Regions from separate parts of the Homo sapiens genome. Here region 2 is linked to region 1. Evidence: fine-mapped expression QTL. A gene starts in region 1. The other region holds a variant in brackets. All regions are shown on one strand. Distances are between the middles of the regions. Region 1 holds the start of SCIMP (SLP adaptor and CSK interacting membrane protein). Region 2 overlaps SCIMP (SLP adaptor and CSK interacting membrane protein).

Region 1 (12,310 bases):
ACAAGGTGGATGGATTAGTTAGGGTAGGGCAGGAACATGTCACAGTGGTGGATGGATTAGTTAGGGTAGGGCAGGAACATGTCACAAGGTGGATGGATTAGTTAGGGTAGGGCAGGAACATGTCACAAGGTGGATGGATTAGTTGGGGAAGGGCAGGAACAATCACAAGGTGGATGGATTAGTTGGGGAAGGGCAGGAACATATCACAAGGTGGATGGATTAGTTGGGGAAGGGCAGGAACATGTCACAATGGTGGATGGATTAGTTGGGGAAGGGCAGGAACATGTCACAATGGTGGATGGATTAGTTGGGGAAGGGCAGGAACATATCACAAGGTGGATGGATTAGTTAGGGTAGGGCAGGAACATGTCACAGTGGTGGATGGATTAGTTGAGGAAGGGCAGGAACATGCCACAAGGTGGATGGATTAGTTGGGGAAGGGCAGGAACATATCACAAGGTGGATGGATTAGTTAGGGTAGGGCAGGAACATGTCACAGTGGTGGATGGATTAGTTGAGGAAGGGCAGGAACATGCCACAAGGTGGATGGATTAGTTGGGGAAGGGCAGGAACATATCACAAGGTGGATGGATTAGTTAGGGTAGGGAAGGAACATATCACAAGGTGGATGGATTAGTTGGGGAAGGGCAGGAACATATCACAGTGGTGGATGGATTAGTTGGGGAAGGGCAGGAACATATCACAAGGTGGATGGATTAGTTGGGGAAGGGCAGGAACATATCACAGTGGTGGATGGATTAGTTGGGGGAAGGGCAGGAACATATCACAAGGTGGATGGATTAGTTAGGGTAGGGCAGGAACATATCACAGTGGTGGATGGATTAGTTGGGGAAGGGCAGGAACAATCACAAGGTGGATGGATTAGTTGGGGAAGGGCAGGAACATATCACAAGGTGGATGGATTAGTTGGGGAAGGGCAGGAACATGTCACAATGGTGGATGGATTAGTTGGGGAAGGGCAGGAACATGTCACAATGGTGGATGGATTAGTTGGGGAAGGGCAGGAACATATCACAAGGTGGATGGATTAGTTGGGGAAGGGCAGGAACATATCACAAGGTGGATGGATTAGTTGGGGAAGGGCAGGAACATATCACAAGGTGGACTGTTGCAAGGTCGGTTAATCATTAAGGCAGGAACTAGCTGTTCCGTCTTCTTTAGTGGTTCTCCTGTTGCTCCAGGCTTTGTGACTCCAGGAGGCCTGTAACGTGTGGGTCACAGGGGTCACAATGGCTCGACCATGGGGTAGCCCATTCAGGGGACCTTCCACTGGCCAGGTTGGTCTTGAACTCGTGACCTCATGATCCACCCGCCTCGGCCTCCCAAAGTGCTGGAATTACAGGCGTGAGCCACCGCGTCCCGCCCAAAGCTGCATAATTTTTTATCCTCAAAAGTTAAGCAGCTTTCCTTCCCCTACAGTCAGTGTTATAAGTGAGTCACTAACGTCAGCCCACTTTTGAGTAGAGGGGACATAGATTCCCACAGCTCAATGGGAGGAGTGTCAAAAAAATGTATGAGCATATTTTAAAACCATTGCAAAGTATGTCATGGGGAGAGTGTCCAGAGGAGAGATGACTGAGTTGGGTTAAATTGCCAGGCCAGGCACAGTGGCTCATGTCTGTAATCCCAGCATTTCGGGAGGCCGAGGCGGTAAAATCTCTTGAGGCCAGGAGTTTGAGACCAGCTTGGGAAACATAGCGAGACCCCCATCTCTACAAAAAATTTAAAAATTAGCCAGGTGTGGTGGTGCATGCCTATGGTCCCAGCTACTTGGGAGGCTTAGGTGAGAGGATCGCTTGAGCCCAGGAGTTCGAGGCTGCGTTGGGCCACGACTGCACCACTGCACTCCAGCCTGAGTGACAGGGTGAGACCGTCTCAAAAATAAATGAATAAATAAATAAATTGCCAGGCCACAGAAAATGCTTAAGTATTACAACTGGTAAATCATAAGAGTTATGGTTGATGTGGCTCCCAGTCAGTTGAGTGGTAATGGGGCTGGTGGACTCATGTTTGGGAACGAAGAAGAGAGAAGGTTCAAGAGTGAGAACTGAAATCACTGCTGTCTCTCCATCCCTGTCCCAGGGGAAAATCCATTGCCCAGCCATTACCAGCTCCTTGAGACTGCCTGCATTTCTTGGCTCGAGACCCCTTCTTCGGATCTCCCCAGTCTCTTGCCTCTGCCAGCACATCCCCTGCCACTGACCCTGACTCTCCTGTATCCCTCTCAGAAGGATCTTGTGATTACATGGGGTCCATGTCGATAATCCTGCATGACTTCCCCACTTCAAAATCCTTAGTCATATCTGCAAAATCCCTTTCACCATCTAAAATAACATACTCATGGGTTCTGGGGTTTAGGGGCCCAATGCTCCTAGTACCTTTCATGGGAATCTTTACCTCCAGAAATGGGGAGAAGTGGGCAGGGACTCCCTTCATACACAAGACACGGCTGCCTCCTGCCACAACCCCAAATACTTATACACTTGCCTTTTTACATCTGAGCTGGAACGACCCCACCTCAATGTCATGGGGCCAGGGTGGGAGACAGAGGAGCTACAACATCTGCTTGGCTATTGTTAGGGACAAACAAAGCAGCCACGGTTGCTTAGTGATGACTTCTGGTTCCACCTGAGTGCTTTGGCCACCCATATTGCTCTCAGAGCTCTTTAAAGATGAGTTATTGTGCCCGGAGTGGTGGCTGATGCCTGTAATCCCAGGACTTTGGGAGGCTGAAGTGGACAGATCACCTGATGTTAGGAGTTCAAGACCAGCCACCTAACCAACATGGAGAAACCCCATCTCTACTAAAAGTACGAAATTAGCAGGGCATGGTGGCGCATGCCTGTAATCCCAGCTACTCTGGAGGCTGAGGCAGGAGAATTGCTTGAACCCAGGAGGTGGAGGTTGCAGTGAGCCAAGATCGCGCCATTGCACTCCAGTCTGGGCAATAAGGGCGAAACTCTGTCTCAAAAACAAAAACAAAAACAAACAAAAACCCCCACCTTTTTAAAAACTGCAATAAAATCTATTAATGTTCTAATTATATGTTGTATCTTATGATTTCTCTTTCTTCAGTTTTTTTCTCATGATGGGGATTAATTGACACTTGTGAGTGGCACAAAGAATAACACCTCATTTTACACATGACTTAGATGACTGAGTGAGAAGAAACAAAACGGCAGAAGCTGGGTGCCACCCGGATGTTGACAAAAAGGTTGAGTCATGAGATGAAGGGTGGACTGGAATCCCTTCTGAGTGTCCTCTAGCCTGATGGTCTCTGTAGCTTTAAGAGGTGAACATCTTGTGTGTCCAGCCATCCCTACGGGGAGGTCAGAGGGACCAGAATCCTGAGGAGAAAGCACCACAGGTGACCACTAGAGGGTGCCCTTCATTCTCCTTGACACCCTCTGGTCCAGCCGCTAATCTAGGGCCCTCAGGGACCTCTTTAGTTGCCCAGACCAGCAGGTGGCATTTCAGATGTGCAGAAAGAACACAACCGCCCCAACTTCCTGCCCTCCTCTTGTGGTGGAAAGACAAATGGTGGAGTCGGGGAAGAATGTAGATAGCAAGGAAGTGGGTAGATCCAGATGCCGTGGTGTGTGTCCCTAAACTTTGCTCTCAAGCCTCTGACTGCCCAACACATTCACTCTTGATCAGCCATGCAACCATCTCTTTCTCTCCAAATACTATGGCTGCTTTGTGTCTGTCCACATTCTGTCCATTTGGTGAGCTCCTACACATCCTTCAAGGCCCAGTTCAAATGCTACCACTCAGACCCTTTCTTCTCTCCCACTTTTGTGCTTCCACAGCACTAGCATTCATCACTTTGCATAGTAATAACTTATGTGCCTTCTGTCCTGTAGAACATGTGCCATGTGCTCTACCCATGAATGACTTGCCCAGTTCTGAGTCTCTACTTGTTGAGCACAGGGTCTGGCACAAATTGAAGGTCATTGTATTTAGCCTGCATCATATTATGGCTTCAACTTCCTCCTACACTTTGCGGGACTTTCTTGAAGGCAGATGGCAAAATCCCTGGAGCACTTTCATATTTGTCAATTGAATTCTTTCATTTTACAACAAGGAAACTGAGGCTCAGAGAAGGGAAGGATTCACAAAGAAAGTTTTGTCAAACCGGGCCTGGAATTCTGATCACCTGACACCTCAGGCTTGAACTTGCTGTGCAAAAGGCATTGTTAGAAATAGTAGGGCTACAGAGTTTACTATATCACAGCTGAACTGAGGTCCTTAAAGGTTAGCAAAATAATTTATTGAGTAATTTATTGAATGAATGAATGAAACACAAACCAAGAAGTCACAGCTTTGTTAGCCTAGGATGAGCTCTATCCACAGAAGCATTTATTCACCCCTCAGAAGAGAATTTTTTTTTTTTTTTTTTTTGAGACGGAGTGTTGCTCTGTCACCCCGGCTGGAGTGCAGTGGCTCGATCTCGGCTCACTGCAACCTCCGCCTCCCAGGTTCAAGCGATTCTTCTGCCTCAGCCTCCCAAGTAGCTGGGACTACAGGCACCTGCCACCATGCCTGGCTAATTTTTGTATTTTTAGTAGAGACGGGATTTCACCATGTTGGCCAGGCTGGTCTCAAACGCCTGACCTCATGATCCGCCTGCCTTGGCCTCCCAAAGTGCTGGGATTTCAGGCGTGAGCCACTGTGCCCGGCCTAGAAGAAAATTTTAAATTGGCTTTTAGGAAGGTTTTTTAGCAGCTAAACTTTGGATGAGCCTAAGAAGAAAGAGTTCAGGCCTTGGCCAGGTGCAGTGGCTCAACTCTGTAATCCCAGCACTTTGGGAGGCCGAGGCAGGTGGATCACTTGAGGTCAGGAGTTCGAGACCAGCCTGGCCAACATGGTGAAACCCTGTCTCTACTAAAAATACAAAGATTAGCCGGATGCGGTGGCACACACCTGTAGTCCCAGCTACTTGGGAGGCTGAGGCAGGAGAATTGCTTGAACCTGGGAGTCGGAGGTTGCAGTGTGCTGAGATTGAGCCACTGCACTCCAGCCTGGCGACAGAGTGAGACTGCATCTCAAAAAAAAAAAAAAAAAAGAAAGAAAGAAAGAAAAAGAAAAAAGAAATTAGTAAACACTGCAAATCAGGAATCTTCTGAGCCAGATGTTTTGTTTTGTTTGTTTGAGATAGAGTCTTGCTCTGTTGCCCAGGCTGGAGCGCAATGGTGTGATCTTGGCTCACTGCAACCTCCACCTCGCGGGTCCAAGCAATTCTCCCGCCTCAGCCTCCTGAGTAGCTGGGACTACCGGTTCACACCAAAATGCCCAGCTAATTTTTGTATTTTTAGTAGAGATGGGGTTTCACCATGTTGGCCAGGCTGGTCTCGAACTACTGACTTCAGGTGATCCACCCGCCTTGGCCTCCCAAAGTGCTGGGATTACAGGTGTGAGCCACCGCACCCAGCCAGAGCCCGGTGTTTGTTAAATTTACCAGACATATATCAGACATTATCAGATATTTATCAGACATATCTGGTTATCATTATTACTGAAATGGATAACAACTCATTCGCTCTGGGCAAATACAATGCACATCCGTTTGCCTATTTTTACTAATGTGACTGCTCATTTGAGTCAGAACCAGCCAATTCAACAAAATGGCTAATTGGTTTCCCCACTCCAACCCCCATGGTCAGAGGCCGTGGGCCTCGCTGGGAGTTCTGTCTCACAGTATTGCACGAGGGGACCCAACTCAGTCAAAATGCTCCACTGGCCACATTTCTCAAGGTCGCCACTCACACGCCTTTAGAAACAGGAAGCCTGTCCCTTGCCTCCTCCAAGCAGAAGATGTCTCAGCAGTTCCAAGGTGCACAGGAGCTTTCAAGAGTCACCTTCATGGTGAGATGGTGAGTTTGTCACACATGAGCTGGTTTCTTACCTGGATCTGTCTCTGCATGGGAGCTGGCGTCCTGTCGCTCTTCTTGAGACTGAGGTTGCCACATCCAGGAATGCTCACGGCAAACTCGTCTGTGGGGACACCAAACCCACCCCCACTGCCAAGTCTCCACCCTGGCCCCTGGCCCCTGCCAGGACCCCCTACCACACCATGAGGGTCCTCTGGTAGGCCTTGCGGGAGCGACACGGGGCAGTGAGAAGATTCTGGCTTCTGGACAGCCGTGGGTCATGAGCTTCCCTGGAAAAGGGATGGTTGCCTAGAGATGACGCCAGGGTCTCTGCCCCGTGGGCTGACTAGAAAGGGGAAGTGGTCAGGATGGGGCTCACTGTCTCTAGCAGTGGGTGAAGGCCTGTGAGTGAGGAATGCCTCTCACCAGCTGTGCCTGAGCTGCAGCACTCCAGCCACTGCTGTCTCCTTAGCTGCTCACATATGGATACTTTCACAGTTCAGGTAAGCATCTCAGCTTTCCAAGGGACAGTTTCCTGCTCTCTTCACAGCAGACATCTGCCAGCGCTGGCATCAGGGCGTGTCCCTGGGAGCCACCGATCAGCACTGGGCCAGGGGATTGCAGCCTGGGGCCCTGGTACGACTGCTGTGTAGGGTTGGAGAAAAACTTGCATTGAAGGATCTGCTCTACTGGTAACTGGCTGAGTGACCTGAGGCATCACTTCACCTCTCTGGGCCTTTTCCTCATGTGTATGTCAGGGGCGATGAAGAAGTCTACCTCTTGGATTGAAATGAGATAATGACCGGGAGTGAGAGGTCTCAACTGTAACGAGTTACTCTCACTTTCTGGATGCCGATGGTGTGTTTTGGGACTTGTTATGTGAGAAGACTGTCATGGTGCTATGCTGGAGGTGGGGGTGGGAGCGAGGCACTGACTGTGTCAATTTATTTATTTTTATTTTATTTTGAGATGGAGTTTCGCTCTTGTCGCCCAGGCTGGAGTGCAGTGACGTGATCTCGGCTCACTGCAACCACCGCCTCCCGGGTTCAAGCGATTCTCCTGCCTCAGCCTCCTGAGTAGCTGGGATTACAGGCACCCGCCACCACACCTGGCTAATTTCTGTATTTTTAGTAGAGACGGAGTTTCACCATGTTGGCCAGGCTGCTCTCGAACTCCTGACCTCAGGTGATCCGCCCGCCTCGGCCTCCCAAAGTGCTGGGATTACCGTAGCATGAATTTAGGCTACGTCTTGGGGCTCTTGGATGAAAGACCTGGATCACCTCCAGTCTTGGTACCTTTGTCATTGCATCTCTGGCTTTCAGTAGTTCATTAGGCACCTTCCCTTCCAGAGGCCTCGAGATCAAAGTGTGTTGGGCTGGCGTGAGTTCTCGGTGTAGCCATCTGCTTTTGCCCTCTGGAAAATTATTTTGAGAAGAGATCTGGGTTTGGCTTTGCCATATCCACTCCCACTGCCTGGTGTGTCCACTTGTCCCTGAGGTCTTGGCCATGAAGCAATGTGGAGCACAGGCTTCACTCTGCTTCAGTGGTAAATAACTACTGAGAGGCAGGCGGGGCATGGTGGCTCACGCCTCTAATCCCAGCACTTTGGGAGGCCAAGGTGGGCAGATCACAAGGTCAAGAGATCAAGACCAGCCTGGCCAACATGGTGAAACCCTGTCTCTACTACAAATACAAAAATTAGCTGGGCATGGTGGTGGGCGCCTATAGCCCCAGCTACTCGGGAAGCTGAGGCAGGAGAATCGTTTGAGCCCGGGAGGTGGAGGTTGCAGTGAGCCAAGATTATGTCACTGCACTCCAGCCTGGTGACAGAGCAAGACTCCATCTCAAAAACAAACAAACAAACTACTGAGAGGCTTAAAGCAAGGAAGGGACAGGGTCACACTGGTATTTGGCAGCCAGTGGGGAGCCCAGTGGGGGCTAGGGGCCAGCGAAAATGCAATGGTCCAGGTACAGAGATGAGGACTTGGACTACATTTGGAGGCTGATGGGCTGAAGCGGGGTGGGGATGGGGCCATGGGAGAAAGAGGAATGAGGCAAGGTTTCCGGTCTTTTCCAGAAGTGAAAGTATAGAGAAGGGAAGAAGAGAGGCTGGACTCCTTTTAATGACCCTGCCGTGCACTTCCCCATGCACACTTGGGTTTTAAGTTGCCAGTGACTATCCACATGGCCATTTCTGGTGCTGACATCAGTGAGAAGGACAAGTGGAGCGAGGCTCAGTGGCTCACGCCTGTAATCCCAGCACTTTGGGAGGCCGAGGCAGGTGGATCACTTGAGGTCAGGAGTTTGAGACCAGCCAGGCCAACATGGCAAAACCCCATCTCTACTAAAAATACACAAAAATTAGCCGGGTATGGTGGTGCGTGTCGGTAATCCCAGCTACTCAGGAGGCTGACACAGGAGAATAGCTTGAACCAGGAAGTAGAGGTTGCAGTGAGCTGAGATTGCACCAGTGGAGTCTAGCCTGGGTGACAGAGCAAGACGCCATCTCAAAAAAAAAAAAAGAAGAAGAACGAGTGGGAACAAGGCCTCACTTAGCATGAACAGCAACAGTCGGGGAATTAGAGGTGAACTGGGGCAAGAACTGCTCATGCCAACCGGCCTAAATGTTCTCTACAGCCTCTCAGACCCTCGAGATCTAGACTGAGATTAGTTCGAACCCTCATTCCAGGCCTGCCGAAGTCCAAAGCCCTCCCCAGGACTTCTGTGGACTCCCGAGGAGCCCACCTCTTTTTCCATGGTCAGCAATGGGCCTGCAGCCTCTGTGGGTAAAACTGTTTACACTGCGCTGTTTACACTGCACTGTTTGCACTGTTTATACTGTTTATACTGCACTGTTTATACTGCACTGTTTACACTGCACTGTTTATATTCCACCCCTTTCTTAGTCCCCCACACCCCTAGAACAAATCTGCTCACAAAAGAATTGGCAGATGCAGCAGACTTTACCAAAGACTCAGCGGGGGACCACCAGAGGGGCTTGTAACGCATCAGCGCAAACAACTGCACACAGAACATAACACGGCGCTGCTCTGAAAATGTCTTTGCCAGCCCATCCCTGAGCATTTTCTATCAGCTCCTCCTCTTGATACCAAATGAGGCCCATTCTGCTCATCGCACAGTAAGCCAATCACTGAGGTGACCAGTTTTTTTTTTTTGTTTTTGAGACGGAGTCTCGCTCTGTCGCCCAGGCTGGAGTGCAGTGGCGCAATCTCGGCTCACTGCAAGCTCCGCCTCCCGGGTTCACGCCATTCTCCTGCCTCAGCCTCCCGAGTAGCTGGGACTACAGGCGCCTGCCACCATGCCTGGCTAATTTTTTGTATTTTTTAAGTAGAGACAGGGTTTCATTGTGTTAGCCAGGATGGTCTTGATCTCCTGACCTCGTGATCCGCCCGCCTCAGCCTCCCAAAGTGCTGGGATTACAGGCGTGAGCCACCGCGTCCCGCCAAGATGACCAGTTTTGCAGCACAGAATGCATTTATTCATGAGGCAGCCAAGTGAGGAGATGGGAAAACAGGTCTCAAACCCACTTCCTCGAAGATGGGGTTTAGAGACGTTTATGGGACAAAGAAGCAGGTGGCCTAAGGTGTGGGGAAGGTGATTGGAGGGAAAAGTAGGACATCGGCAATCTGTGCAAGCCTAGTCAAGCTTCATCGTTCTTCATAGGATGCAGGTTCACAAAATGGTGGCATTAGCATGATGGAAGATGGAGTTTTTGGCGCTCTGACATCAAACGTCACCTACTGGACACTCACACAGACCAAGTTGAAGGATTGATGGTCATAAGTGGCTTGAACTGGATAAGAGCTGACCCCAAGTTCCTGAAAAACAACTTTTTTTCTTTTCTTTTTTTTTTTTTGAGATGGAGTTTCACTCTCGTCACTCAGGCTGGAGTGCAATGGCGTGATCCTGGAGGCTCACTGCAACCTCTACCTCCTGGGTTCAAATGATTCTCCCTCAGCCTTCCGAGTGGCTGGGATTACAGGCGCCTGCCACCACACCAGGCTAATTTCTGTATTTTTAGTAGAGACGGGGTTTCACCATCTTGGCCAGGCTGGTCTCGAACTCCTGACTTCAGGTGATCTGCCTACCTTGGCCTCCCAAAGTGCTGGGATTACAGGCGTGAGCCACCGTGCCCAGCCCTTGAAAAACAACTTAAACAACCATTACTATGATGACCTATATGTCAGAGATGTTATCCAGCAGGAAGCTAGTGGAAGTCCAGTTAAATATTGCTTAGCTACATGACTTTTAGCTCTATAGGCTTTTTTCTTTTTTAAAGACAGGGTCTCACTCTATAACCCAGGCTAGAGTGCACTGATGGTAATCACAGCTCACTGCAGCCTCAATCTCCTAGAGTCAAGCCATCCTCCCACCTCAGCCTCCTGAGTATCTGGGACTACAGGCACATGCCGCCACATCTGGTTTTGTTTTGTTTTGTTTTGTTTTGTTTTTATTTTCAGTAGAGAGAAAGTCTCGCTGTGTTGCCTAGGCTGGTCTTGAACTCCTGGGCTCAAGTGATCCTCCAGCCTCGGCCTCCCAAAGTGCTGGGATTACAAGTGTGAGCCACTGCCCCCAGTAGCTATATAGGTTTTAAGATCAACTAGAAGCAAGTGACTAAAATCAAGTAAGGTAGGTTAAGTTCTGCAGGCCTAATCTAGCCCTCGGGTTCACTCCCACCTTTGCACCATCCTGCTGGCTTCCCTTTTCATCTTTCCATCCCTTCTTCTCATCACCTTCCCTCCCAGAACTCCAAATTCTCCCCTTCTATAACCCAGAGGAATTCAACATTCCCCAGTTCCTACCAGCAAACTTCATTCCTAACCCAGCCAGCTTTGCAGATCTGCAGATCCTCTGCAGGGAGAATAGGGGACTCTCCTGGTCGGTAGCTGCCCTTCTTAGAAGACACTTGCTATTGTAAATAGAACTTGGTTGGTTTGCCCTTAATAATGCCTCATGCTTGGTGATCTTCTGCACACAGAGCTCTTTTGCATGCAACATCTCTTGGAAGCTTTTCAGAAGCCTGCAAGGAGACGTTAAGCATCTTATTCCAAGTGCAACAGCTAAGTGGGAACAGGAAACCTATTCCCTCTGGCCAGGTGCAGTGGCTCATGCCTGTAATCCTGGTACTTTGGGAGGCTGGGGCGGAGGATCACTTGGGGCCCAGAGTTTGAAACCAGCCTAGGCAACATTTTTTGTGTGTCTACAACATTTTTTTGTCTCTACAAAAAGGAAAAGAAGGGAAAGGAGAGGAGAAAAAGGAGAGGAGAGAAGAAAGGAGAGAAGAGGAGAGGAGAAAGGAGAGAGGAGAGGACCGGAGAGGAGAGGAGTGGAGAGGAGAGGAGCAGAGAGGAGAAAGGAGAAGAGGGGAGAAAGGAGATGGGGGAAGGGGAGGGGAGGGGAACTTGTTCCCTTGATGGCCAGCCTAGGGCCCTTCAGCGCTTCATTTATGTGAATACGTGAATAACTATCACAACGTAAACCATATTTCTTACTGAAGATCTTCTTTTAAAAATGCTAAATACGCCGGACGCAGTGGCTCATGCCTGTAATCCCAGCACTTTGGGAGGCCAAGGCGGGTGGATCACCTGAAGTCAGGAGTTCAAGACCAGCCTGACCAATATGGTGTGAAACGCCATCTCTACTAAAAATATAAAAATTAGCCGGGCATGGTGGCGTGCGACTGTAGTCCCAGCTACTTGGGAGGCTAAGACAGGAGAATTGCTTGAACCGGGGAGATGGAGGTTGCAGTGAGCCAAGGTCGCGCCACTGCACTCCAGCCTGGGCAACAGAGCAAGACTCTGTCTCAAAAAAAAAAAAAAAAAAAAAAAAAAAGCTAAATAAACCCACAGTCTCAGAAATTCCTGGTGAAGGAAAATGTGATTTCTGTCCCTGACACCCTGGAAATGCCCTTTGGAGAAATGAAAGTGAAGCTGATGTGTTGACTGCCTTCAGTTGCTCTCCCACTCACACGCCCTCTTCACTGTGGAAGGTCTTGCCAAATCCTTTCCACTGAAACCACCCAGAACTGCAACAGGCTCACTCATGTTCCTTGAAAATGTCATGGACAACTAGAGGAATGGGGAGAAACAAAGGGGAAGCTGGAACTCCACCTCCCCAGCATTGGATTGCCACTGCTTCCCAGCCAGCCTCTTGGCCCCAGTAGCCAATGGCCAGCGCAGGACGGGGAGCCTGCCCAGGGTCGCGTGTCCAGATGAGGCTTTGGAATTAGACTGCACAGCACAGTAATTTCAGTTACTGGACCCAAAGTGACTTCTGCCTGCATTCTCGGGTGGGAGGTCCATCTATAGCAGGGGAAAGAGACTGGGGCATCATCCATTCTTTCGTATATTCACAGATATGTATGGTATGTCCTGCCCCAGGTGATGTTCTAGGCGCTA
Region 2 (12,310 bases), 21 kb after region 1:
AACAATTACAGTACATTATGGCGAAAGAATACAGATTAAAATCAGCAAATGAAAAAGTGATGGAGTGTGGGGTCTAGCAGAAAGCAGGCAAAGCTTGCAGTTGTCCTCTCCCAGTGAAGTCGCACAGAGAGCCCCAGTTCTCCCAGTAACAATATGTGGCAACAGACGCGAAGCACTGCTGACTGGAGAACCTCACCTGAGCCTTGGAGTACAGAGTTTTTCTTTTACTGGGGGTTAGTCATGTAGGCATGGAATACCTGCACTTAGCTTTATCAAATTGATCAAACATGGCCCAGGGCCCCAGGCAAACAAAAACAGGCATTCACCATAAACCACATTATTAACATAAACTATCTGGTGTGGCCCAAGGCTCCCAGATATACAAAGACACTCTTTATTTATTTATTTACGAGATGGAGTCCCAGTCTGTCACCCAGGCTGGAGAGCAATGGCGTGATTTCGGCTCCCTGCAACCTCTGCCTCCCAGGTTCAAGTGCTTCTCCTGCCTCAGCTTCCTAAGCAGCTGGGATTACAGGCACCTGCCACTATGCCCAGCTAATTTTTGTATTTTTAGTAGAGATGGCGTTTCACCATGTTGGCCATGGCTGGTCTGGAACTCCTGACCTCAAGTGATCCACCCACCTTGGCCTCCCAAAGTGCTCGGATTACAAGTGTGAGCCACCATGCCCGGCCTCAAAGACACTTTTTTTGTTGTTGTTGAGACAGAGTCTCGCTCTGTCACCCAGGCTGGAGTGCAATAGCGCGATCTCGGCTCACCACAACGTCTGCCTCCCAGGTTCAAGTGATTCTCCTGCCTCAGTCTCCTGAATAGCTGGGATTACAGGCGCGCGCCACCACACCTGGCTAATTTTTTGTATTTTTAGTAGAGACGGGGTTTCGCTATGTTGGCCAGGCTGGTCTCGAACTCCTAACCTCGTGATCTGCCCATCTCGGCCTCCCAAAGTGCTGGGATTACAGGCGTGAGCCACCACGCCCGGCCGGAGACACTCTTATTAGGAAGAATATTCCAAGGGTTTAGAGATTATTTCCCAGGAGCCAGTCAAGAGCCAGTCCTTTCTTTGGAGTATACACACTATCTAAAACAAAACTTACACTTGGGGCGAGGTGCAGTGGCTCATGCCTGTAATCTCAGCACTTTGCCAAAGTGGGAGTATCACTTGAGGCCAGGAGTTCAAGACCAGCCTGGACAACATAGTGAGACCCTGTATACAAAACATTTTTAAATCTCTGCTTTTCTAAAATGGCTTTTGTTGTAGCTTCAGGGATCCAGCAAATAAGACTCCCCCTGCCTCCATCAATTCTGATCCCTTTCAAGAATAAGACAAATGTGTCAGGCAGTCAGGTGACTAAATATTGCCTTTTTTAAGAATAAAACTGGGGCCAGGTGCAGCAGCTCACACCTGTAATCCCAGACTTTGGGAGGCCGATGCAGGCAGATCACCTGAGGTCAGGAGTTCGAGACCAGTCTGGCCAACATGGTGAAACCCTGTCTCTACTAAAAATACAGAAATTAGCTGGGCATGGTGGTGTGTGCCTGTAATCCCAGCTACTTGGGAGGCTAAGGCAGGAGAATTGCTTGAACCCAGGAGGTGGAGGTTGCAGTGATCCAAGATCGTGCCACTGCACTCCAGCCTGGGTGACGAGTGAAACTCAGTCTCAAAAAAAAAAAAGCAAAAAACTAAAACTGGTATTGGCCAGGGGCAGTGGTTCATGCCTATAATCCCAGCACTTGGGAGGCCCAAGTGGGAGGATGGCTTGAGGCCAGGAGTTTGAAACCAGCCTGGGCAACATAGTGGGGACCCATATCTGAGAAAAATACCAAAATTAGCCAGGTGTGGTGGTGTCTGCCTGTAGTCCCAGCTACTTGGGAGGCTGAGGTGGGAGGATTGCTTGAACCCCTGAGGTCAGGGCAGCAGTGAGCTGTGATCGTGCCACTGAACTCCAGCCTGGGTGTCAAAGTGAGACCCTGTCTCAAAAAAAAAAAATGTTGGTGGGACGGTAAACTAGTTCAACCATTGTGGAAGTCAGTGTGGCGATTCCTCAGGGATCTAGAACTAGAAATACCATTTGACCCAGCCATCCCATTACTGGGTATATACCCAAAGGACTATAAATCATGCTGCTATAAAGACACAGGCACACGTATGTTTATAGCAGCACTATTCACAATAGCAAAGACTTGGAACCAACCTAAATGTCCAACAACGATAGAATGGATTAAGAAAATGTGGCACACATACACCATGGAATACTATGCAGCCATAAAAAATGATGAGTTCATGTCCTTTGTAGGGACATGGATGAAACTGGAAACCATCATTCTCAGCAAACTATCGCAGGGACAAAAAAACAAACACCGCATGTTCTCACTCATAGGTGGGAATTGAACAATGAGAACACATGGACACAGGAAGGGGAACATCACACACCGGGGACTGTTGTGGGGTGGGGGGAGGGGGGAGGGATAGCATTAGGAGATATACCTAATGCTAAATGACGAGTTAATGGGTGCAGCACATCAACATGGCACACGTATACACATGTAACAAACCTGCACGTTGTGCACATGTACCCTAAAACTTAAAGTATAATAATAATAAAACAAACACACACACACACACACACACACACACACAAGCAAACAAAAAAGAATAAAACTGGGATTGCAGAATGTGGCTCTTTTCTGTGAGCTAGTGAGTTTCCTAATTTGGAACCGGGTGACTTTCCTAACCAGTTCACAGGCAGCTCCGGAAAACCTCAGGTCTCCCCCACCGAGTAGACCCCTTTTTCTGAATGGCAAAGACCAGAGCAGGATTTGTGAATTCTGCAGTCAGGCCAGCTCTGGAGGAGAAAGTGAGAGGAGCTAGACTTTTCCCAAATTTAGCAGTCAGATGAGTTGCTTTCTTCTCTTAGGAAGAGCTACAGAGGGATGGTGAGAGCCGCCGGTGGAGCTCTACCCCCATGTCCCCGTCTGCACTCAACCTAACAACCTAAAAATGTTTATTCATTCTCAGGGGGACTTTATAGCATATAGGAGTCAAATCAGTGTACCTAGGGGGATGGAGGCCCAAGTAAGGAAGTTTTCTTAGAGTTTATCTTTTAGTTAAAACTTTGTACCAAAGTATCATATAAATACAGGAAAATGGAAATACTGAGTGTGCAACCTGATGAATTTCCACGAACTCAACAGACCCAGGTCACTGGCACCCAGATCAAGAAATAGGACGTTACCAGCACTTCAGAGGCTGACTTTATACAGCCTTTCAACCATTACATCCCAAAGGCAATCACTGTCTGTGATAGTATAAATTAGCTTTTTGGGTTTTTTTTGTTTTTTGTTTTTTTGTTTTTGAGATGGAGTCTCACTCTGTTGCCCAGGCTGGAGTGCAGTGGCGCGATCTTGGCTCTCTGTAACCTCCGCCTCCCAGATTCAAGCAATTCTTCTGCCTCAGCCTCCTGAGTAGCTGGGATTATAGGCATGCGCCACCACACCTGGCTAATTTTTGTATTTTTAGTAGAGACTGGGTTTCATCATGTTGGCCAGGCTAGTCTCGATCTCCTGACCTCATGATCTGCCTGCCTTGGCCTCCCAAAGTGCTGGAATTACAGGCATGAGCCACCGTGCCCAGCAGCTTTTTGGTTTTTATGCAATCTATTAATGGCATCATATAGTATATATTATTTGGTGTTTGGCTTTTTTGCTCAACATCATTTTTATGAGATTCATTGTGTGTAGTTGTAGATTGTTCATTCTTGTTGCTATAGAACATTCCACCGTGGGAGTACACCAGTATTTATTTATTTATTTATTTATTTTGAGACAAGGTCTCACTCTCAACCAGGTTGGAGTACAGTGGTGCAATCATAGCTCACTGTCACCTCAAATTTTGGGCTCAAGTGATCCTCTTGCTTCAGTCTCCTGAGTAGCTGGGACTACAGGTGTATGCCACCACAACCTGCTAATTATGTTGATTTTTTTGTAGAGACTGGGTCTCCCTGTGTTGCCCAGGGTCTCCCTATATTACCCTTAAACCCCTGGGCTCAAGCCATCCTCCCTCTTTCGCCTCCCAAAGTGCTGGGATTACCAATGTCAGCCACCTTGCCCAGTCACTTTACCATAATTAATCTATCCATTCTACTGCTGATGGACATTTGAGTTGTGTGATGGCAAATTTTATGTGTCTGTGCTTCTCTGGACAACCCAGACTAATACAGGTCGTGTCCAATTCAGAGCTGTTATGAATAGTGTTGCTCTGAACATTCTAATGCATGTTTTGGTGAACAGATGCGAGCATTTCAATAGTCTGTAGACCCAGTAGTGGAAATGCTGACTCAAGGTGTGTGTACATTCTGCTTTAGGAGTTCATCTGCTTTTGTTTTTTGTTTTTTTATTTGTTTGTTTTGAGACAGAGTCTCACTCTGTTGCCTAGGCTGGAGTGCAGTAGCATGATCTCGGCTCACTGCAACCTCCGCCTCCGAAGTTCAAGTGATTCCCCTGCCTCAGCCTCCCGAATAGGTGGGATTACAGGTGAGCATCATCATGCCCAGCTGATTTTTGTATTTTTAAGTAGAGACAGGGTTTCACCATATTGGCCAGGCTGGTCTTGAACTCCTGACCTCAGGTGATCCGCCTGCCTCGGCCTCCCAAAGTGCTGGGATTACAGGCATGCGCCACCATGCCCGGCTCATCTGTTTTGCAAATAGAAATACATCTGGTGCCTACCTCTCCGAATCCAGCTCAGGTGAACCAGGAAGGTGTGCTCCATGCTCTGAATTATAGCACTTTATTTCCCTCCCCTCATTTTCAGCCATTTCCAGGGCTACAGAAAACGGTTTCATTAGGGTGCCAATTACAAATGGGAACCAGGACCTACAAAGGAAAGGAAATGCTTCCAATTAGTAGAGACCAAGATTTGAATGTTCAACCCATTCACTTTCCTTGATGTTTTCTCTTAAATCGGCTGGGAGCAGGCATGGCCCAAACCAAACACTGATTCTCTCTCTTTCTCTCTCTCTAGGAATGTTCTTAATGAGTCGCCAGTTCAATTACCGCCTCTGCCACCGAGGAATTGGCCTTCTCTAGAAGACTCTTGTAAGTATATTTTACTGGTAGCAGTTTCATTTAGGGTAAGATAACGAGTTTATCAAGGTGTCTTTTTTTTTTTTTTTTTTTTTTTTAGATGGAGTCTTGCTCTGTCACCCAGGCTGGAGTGCAATGGCACGATCTCGGCTCACTGCAAGCTCCGCCTCCCGGGTTCATGCCATTCTCCTACCTCAGCCTCCGGAGTAGCTGGGACTACAGGCACCCGCCACCACGCCCAGCTAATTTTTTGTATTTTTAGTAGAGAAGGAGTTTCACCGCGTTAGCCAGGATGGTCTCGATCTCCTGACCTCGTGATCCACCGGCCTCGGCCTCCCAAAGTGCTGGGATTATAAGCGTGAGCCACTTTTTTTTGTTTTTGAGATGGAGTCTCGCTCTGTCCCCCAGGCTGGAGTGCAGTGGCGCGATCTCCACTCACTGCAAGCTCCGCCTCCCAGGTTCACACCATTCTCCCACCTCAGCCTCCTGAGTAGCTGGGACTACAGGTGCCCACCACCACGCCTGGCTAATTTTTTGTATTTTTAGTAGAGACGGGGTTTCACCATGTTAGCCAGGATGGTCTAAATTTCCTGACCTCATGATCTGTCCACCTCGGCCTCCCGAAGTGCTGGGATTACAGGTGTGAGACACCACGCCCGTCCCCTATGAAGGTGTCTTAGATAGCTCAGGCTGCTGTAACAAAAATACCATAGACTGGGGTGCTTACACAACAGAAATTTGTTTTCTCGTTGTTCTGAAGCTGGAAGCCCGAGATGAGGGTGTTGGCCGATTTCTGTGAGGTTTCTGGTGAGGGTTCTCCTCCTGGCTTGCAGACAGCTGCCTTCTTGCTATGTCCCCACAAATGGCCTTTCCTTGGTGCATTCAAGCTGGGGAAGAGCATCAGGGAGTCAGATTTCTGGTGTTTCTTCTTACAAGGACACTGATCCTGTTGGATCAAGGCCTCATCCCTATGGCCACATATAGCCTCACTGGGGGTTAAGGCTTGAACACCTGAATTTTGGGGGGACACAAACATTCAGTCTGTAACACTAGGATTTATAGATGCAGCATCCTGATTATTTTATTTTTGAGGCAGAGTCTTGGTTTCTCACCCAGGCTGGAGTGCAGTGGCATGATTTCAGCTCACTGCAATCTCCACTTCCTAGGTCCAAGCTATTTTCCTGCCTCAGCCTCCTGAGTAACTGGGATTATAGGCGTGCACCACCACACTCAGCTAATTTTTTGTATGTTTAGTAGAGACGGGGTTTCACCATATTGACCAGGCTCGTCTTGAACTCCTGACCTCAAGTGATCCACCCGCCTCGACCTCCCAAGGTGCTGGGATTACAGGCATGAGCCACCACACACAGCCAGCATCCTGTTTAAAAGAGATAGCCAGAGGCCAGGCACAGTGGCATATGCTTGTAATACCAACACTTTGGAAGGCCAGGGCGGGCTGATGACTTGAGCTCAGGAGTCTGAGAACAGCCTGGGCAACATGGCAAAATCCTATCTTTACAAAAATTAGCCAGCGTGATGGTGCACACTTATAGTCCCAGCTACTTGGAAGGCTGAGGTGGGGGGATCGCTTGAGCCTGGGAGGTCTGCAGTGAGCCACGATAGCATCACTGCACCTGGACGACAGAGTGAGACCCTGTCTCAAAAAAAAAAAAAAAAGGGATGGAAAAGCAAAAAGGGGGCAGCATAAGTACCGACGCACCCAATAGCCTGATATAAGGGTGTAAATTCATGTTCAAATCCCAGCTTGGAACATAAACAGAAAGAAACATGGGGTGTCACTAGGCCTTTCACTTCCTATCAGAAAAACTCTGCCTGGTTCCTTTGACTGGAA[T/G]GTTCTTCCTTAAGCTCTTTGCCTCGCTGGATTTTCCTCATCCTTCAGATGTCAGCTCAGAAGTTACCACCTCAAAGAGGCCCTCTCTGTCCACTCAACCTAAAGTAGTTCTGCTAATTTCCTTTATGAAACTGACAGTTATCCAAAATTGTGTTATTTACTTATTGTTCATTTATGTATTATTGATCTCCTCCACTGGAGTATAAACTTCAGGAACACAGGAACCTTTTTTGTCCACCACTATTAATATTTATCCACTACCTAGAACAGGGCGTGAGGCTCAGTCGATACTTAAGAAAAATATTTTGATTGGATAGATAAATAATATTAGCTAACATTTATTGAGCATGCGCTGTGTTTCAGGTCCCACACTAAGCACTTTACAGGTATTAGCTCATTCACTCCTCACAACTCTACAAGCCAGGTACATTTTTTTGTTTGTTTGTTTTTTGAGATGGAGTCTCGGTCTGTCGCCCAGGCTGGAGTGCAGTGGCGCAATCTCGGCTCACTGCAAGCTCCACCTCCCGAGTTCATGCCATTGTCCTGCCTCAGCCTCCTGGGTAGCTGGGACTACAGGTGCCTGCCACCATGCCTGGCTAATTTTTTGTATTTTTAGTAGAGATGGGGTTTCACCATGTTAGCAAGGATGATCTCGATCTCCTGACCTCGTGATCCACCCACCTCAGCCTCCCAAAGTGCTGGGATTACAGGCGTGAGCCACCGCGCCCGGCCCAAGCCAGGTACATTTTTATTCCTCTGTGACAGATGAGGATGCTCAGGCACAGATAAGTGACTTACCTATAGTCACACAGCTAATGACTGCTGGAACGTGAACATGAACTCTGGTCTGTCAAACTGCAGAGTTCTGCAAATAGTGGCATTTCAGGTTTTCTTAGGAAAAGATGAGATTGTGGGAGAGGCAGTTCCAATCCCCATCAAAGATGGAGCTGAGCTGTTTCATCATCCTTCTATTACTTATGGACCTGTTCTTTTTGTTTGTTTTTTGTTTCTTTTTCTTTCTTTCTTTCTTTTTTTTTGAGACAGAGTCTCGCTCTGTTGCCCAGGCTAGAGTGCAATGGTGCAATCTTGGCTCACTGCAACCTCTGCCACCTGGGTTCAAGCAATTCTCCTGTCTCAACCTCCCGAGTTGCTGGGATTATAGGCACCCGCCATCACGCCCAGCTAATTTTTGTATTTTTGTAGAGACAGAGTTTCATCAGGCTGGTCTCGAACTCCCGACCTCAGGTGATCTGCCCACTTCAGCCTCCCAAAGTGCTGGGATTACAGGCATAAGCCACCGCGCCCCAGCCTCCTATGAACCTGTTCTGTACTAATTCCACCTTTTGAAAACAACGCCATCCCCTTTCTTCTTAGAGAGATTTGTACATAAGCAATTACAGAGAGTCCTGGAAAACAGTGTAAGTCACTGGAAGGGATGTGCCAAAAAGGAAATATGATTTGTTTCACTTCCTTGTAAAAATTAGGATCTGTAACACAACAGCACTCATATGACTACTGGGCTCTGGTCTGTTTCTTTTCATCCATTCTTTTTTTTTTTTTGGAGACAGGGTCTTACCATGTTGTCCAGGCTGAAGTGCAGTGGCGTGATCATGGCTCGTTGTAGCCTTAACCTCCTGGGCTCAGGAAATCCTCTTGCCTCAGCCTCCCAATTAGCTGGGACTATAGGCATGCACCACCACATCCGGCTAATTTTTAAATTTTTCTGTAGGGACGAGGGTCTCCCTGTGTTGCCCAAGCTGGTCTGGAACTCCTGGGCTCAAGTGATCCTCCCACCTGGGCCTCCCAGAGTACTGGGACTACAGGTGTGAGCTTCTGCACCTGACCTGGTCTGTTTCTTTTCTAAGCTTTTGCTTCATGGTTTCCATGCAGTGCAGGCTTAGGCAGAAAGATACGGGAGTCAAGATGTCTGACTAATATTTTCCAGTTACTCACTTGGGTGATCCTGAGGCTCTGTCAGGTCTGTGTCTAAATTTCCTCTGTAAAATGGGGATCTGGCCCACTAGAAGTGGGAAGATCACTGAAACGTGAAAATCACGCTGAGCCACTGCCTTCAAAAATATAAAAACACATGACAGCTTTGCATCTAAGGAGCTTTTTGTGTATTCTAGCCCCACAGGAAGCCCCAAGTCAGCCGCCCGCTACATACTCACTGGTAAATAAAGTTAAAAATAAGAAGACTGTTTCCATCCCAAGCTACATTGAGCCTGAAGATGACTATGACGATGTTGAAATCCCTGCAAATACTGAAAAAGCATCATTTTGAAACAGCCATTTCTTCTTTTTGGCAAAACTGAAGAGGGTTCACACAACTTATTTTAAAACAATCAAGAATGGTTGAACTTCAGTAGGTCTCTGGGCCCTGAAAGCCAGTGGTGATTTTATGAAGCTCTATAAGATAAAGCACTTCCCAAACCTTAGATGAAGACACCCCTGCGATCGGATGACTGCAGCCAGAGGAGACACATGGGTGCTCGGCTCTGAGGACTTAGAGGGGTCAGCCTTGTGCTGTTGAGGAAACTTTCCATGGGAAGGACCACGGGGCTCCATGGCTCCCACCTGTGGGAAACTACTCATTTCTTGGCATTCTTTCCCCCTTCATTCCCTTTGGTTTGCATGGTTCTGAGTGATATTAAATCTCAGCATTTGGTTGTGCAGACCCTCCCAGGCTCCCATCCCCAGCAAGGCCCTCACCAAGCATGCTGGTCTTTACCCTCTCACCCCACCCACCTCCTGCACTGTGAGGCTGTGGGTGAGTTACAGCTGAGTGCTCTCGTGCCCAGGTTCCCACACCACATCTCGCGAGTTTGCAAGGGCAGGGAGTACCTTTTGTTCTCGTGAACCCTCCCCACCTAGACACCCTGCAAACCCCAGTGCCTTTATATGATGTAGGCCAAATTGACCATAGAGATTTGAGTTTTCACCTAGGTTTTCTCCCCGTGCTTGCAAGTTGTACTGTAACAATGGACAAAGGACAAAAGTTACCTTCTGATTTACACCTAGAAGCATCATTTTGCAATAGGTGTGTTGGGGGTGCTACAGGAAAAATACATTTCCCCCAGGACAAATCATGGGGAACAGGAAAGAAAAGGGGCATGTAACAATGGCATATACAAGATGAGAGTTCAGGGGGCTTAATATCCCCTGTCCATCATTTTCATCAGTACTTACTCGAGTTCTAGGAAAACAGCCTCAAGCCCCTTCCTTCCAGATCACTGTCCCTGGGCATCTGGGAGGAGGCAGAAGGTCCACTGTGATGTGCTGCAGCCAATGAGATGGGCCAGGGACATGGGCAGATGTCTTGTTAAACAAGTGTCCTAATGGGGTCAACAAGGCCCGAGTCAGCTTTATAGGCTCTTAGACCTCATCAATTCCTTCTAGCTGATCGCCAGAGCCCTAGGACTTGACTCATTCTAACTATACTCACAAGATGCTGGTTTCTAAGTGACCTCTGGGAAATCTGGCAAATGAACAGCCTTGCAGAGAGAGCACTGTGAACCTGGAAAGGCCTGAGAGTGACTCAGATTTCCCTCAAGAGATGGGAAAATGTGTTCCTCCCATTTTCAAGCTTTCTCCCTCAATCAACGCTGGAGCACTGGGGACCTGGGCTTCCTCCCTGGTTCTCTCTTTCCAGACTCTATGAAGGCTTCCACCTTGCTATTAATACCTCCTTGGGAGGCCAAGGTGGGCGGATCACCTGAGGTCGGGAGTTCGAGACCAGCCTGACCAACATGGAGAAACCCCATTTCTACTAAAAATACAAAATTAGTCAGGCATGGTCGCGCATGCCTGTAATCCCAGCTACTTGGGAGGCTGAGGCAGAAGAATCGCTTGAAACTGGGAGGCGGAGGTTGCGGTGAGCCGAGAACATGCCATTGCACTCCAGCCTGGACAACAAGAGTGAAACTCCATCTAAAAATAAATAAATAAATAAATAAATAAACCCTCCTTATGTTAGGCCAGTAGTTATCTAACTATGGCCTTATGGGACTCTGGTATCCCACCAGCCAAAGAGAGGACTCTTCCCAAATTATAGAACAAAAATAAGCCAAAGGATTGGAGTGTTTCAAACACATGCTTTCGTCTTATAAATGTTCTGTAAACCCTCCATGACTATGACAAAAGTTAAAAACAAATGCCAGACAAATGTTGATTCTTCCTTGGTTTCTGGGACGCCACCCTCTCCTGGTTCTCCTCCTGTCTCCGTCTCATTTTGGGGCCACCCACTCTTTCTGAAGCATCTCTTCAATGCTGGTCTTCCTCAGGTTCTGTCCCTGTGTCTCTGCCCATCTGCCTCCAACACTCACGAGTGATCTCACCAATGTCCATGAGCTCAGTGGGCCCCTCCTTTTTTTTTTTTTTGAGACTGAGTCTCATTCTGTCACTCACGCTGGAGTGTAGTGGCACAATCTCAGCTCACTGCAACCTCCCCCTCCCAAGTTCAAGCGATTCTCCTGCCTCAGCCTCCTGAGTAGCTGGGATTACAGGTGTGTGCCAACACGCCTGCACCCGGCTAATTTTCTGTTTGTTTTTAGTAGAGACGGGGTTTCACCATGCTGGCCAGGCTGGTCTTGAACTCCTGACCTCAAGTGATCCGCTTGCCTCAGCCTCCCAAAGTGCTGGGATTACAAGTGTGAGCCACCACGCCCAGCTGCCCCCTCTATTCTGACTTCAGCTGAGCTCTTTCTCCCCAGCTGGGTTGCCTCTAAGACATCTCGTTGTGACTGCCCCACACACCCCCTCAAGTTCAGCAAACACCAAAAGGAACTGATGACCTACCTCCAGTCCCAAATGTCTTGTGCTCTACTATCTTCTTAGTTGCTGAAGTCAGAAACTAGTATCCTTCTCCCCACACTGCTTTGTTTCCAGAGCTCCCCATGTTACTTGTGCCTCCCACGTGGTTCTCCAATGAGTCCACGTCTCTCCGTCACTGTTCTGAGGTCAGACAATTGCCAGCGCTTGCCAGGAGAATATCAACAGCCCCCTGACTGCTCCCCTGCCTCTGGCACCTCACCTGCCGTCCACTTTCTACATGGCACCCAGTGACTTCCTAAAGTGAACATCTGACCACTTCATTCCTTTGCTTAAATCTTCTCTTTGCCCGTTAACCCCAGAAAAAGACCAAACTCTTTAACATGGCTTACAAGATTTGTCAGGATCTGGTCACTGATTATCTTTTGCCAAACTCTTCTCCCCCAACCCCCTTGCAACCTCCACTCTGCCCAAGTTTTTTGCTCCAGCCACTTAAAATGACCTTCACAGGCCGGGCGCAGTGGCTCACACCTGTAATCCCAGCACTTTGGGAGGCCGAGGTGGGTGAATCATGAGGTCAGGAGTTT

The links. PIP is the estimated chance that this variant, and not a neighbour inherited with it, causes the effect.
Region 2: its variant is fine-mapped to the expression of SCIMP in testis (GTEx, PIP 0.94).

What each region holds. Positions count from the first base shown.
Region 1 is chr17:5,228,819-5,241,128 of GRCh38, reverse strand. It overlaps SCIMP (SLP adaptor and CSK interacting membrane protein), which reads left to right and starts at 6,269. Exons shown (of 5, transcript NM_207103.3): 1 at 6,269-6,394. The coding sequence starts at 6,374. It overlaps ZNF594-DT (ZNF594 divergent transcript), which reads right to left. Exons shown (of 6, transcript NR_152840.1): 6 at 5,126-6,015. RefSeq lists enhancers at 3,583-3,882, 5,828-6,027.
Region 2 is chr17:5,207,728-5,220,037 of GRCh38, reverse strand. It overlaps SCIMP (SLP adaptor and CSK interacting membrane protein), which reads left to right. Exons shown (of 5, transcript NM_207103.3): 4 at 5,040-5,113; 5 at 9,083-11,118. The coding sequence ends at 9,237. It overlaps ZNF594-DT (ZNF594 divergent transcript), which reads right to left. Exons shown (of 6, transcript NR_152840.1): 2 at 10,143-10,288; 3 at 5,829-5,988; 4 at 4,745-4,891. Among named protein-coding and RNA genes, the nearest start is that of SCIMP, 21 kb to the left of the region's middle. RefSeq lists a silencer at 11,430-11,609. The variant T/G (reference allele first, on the strand shown) is at 6,954.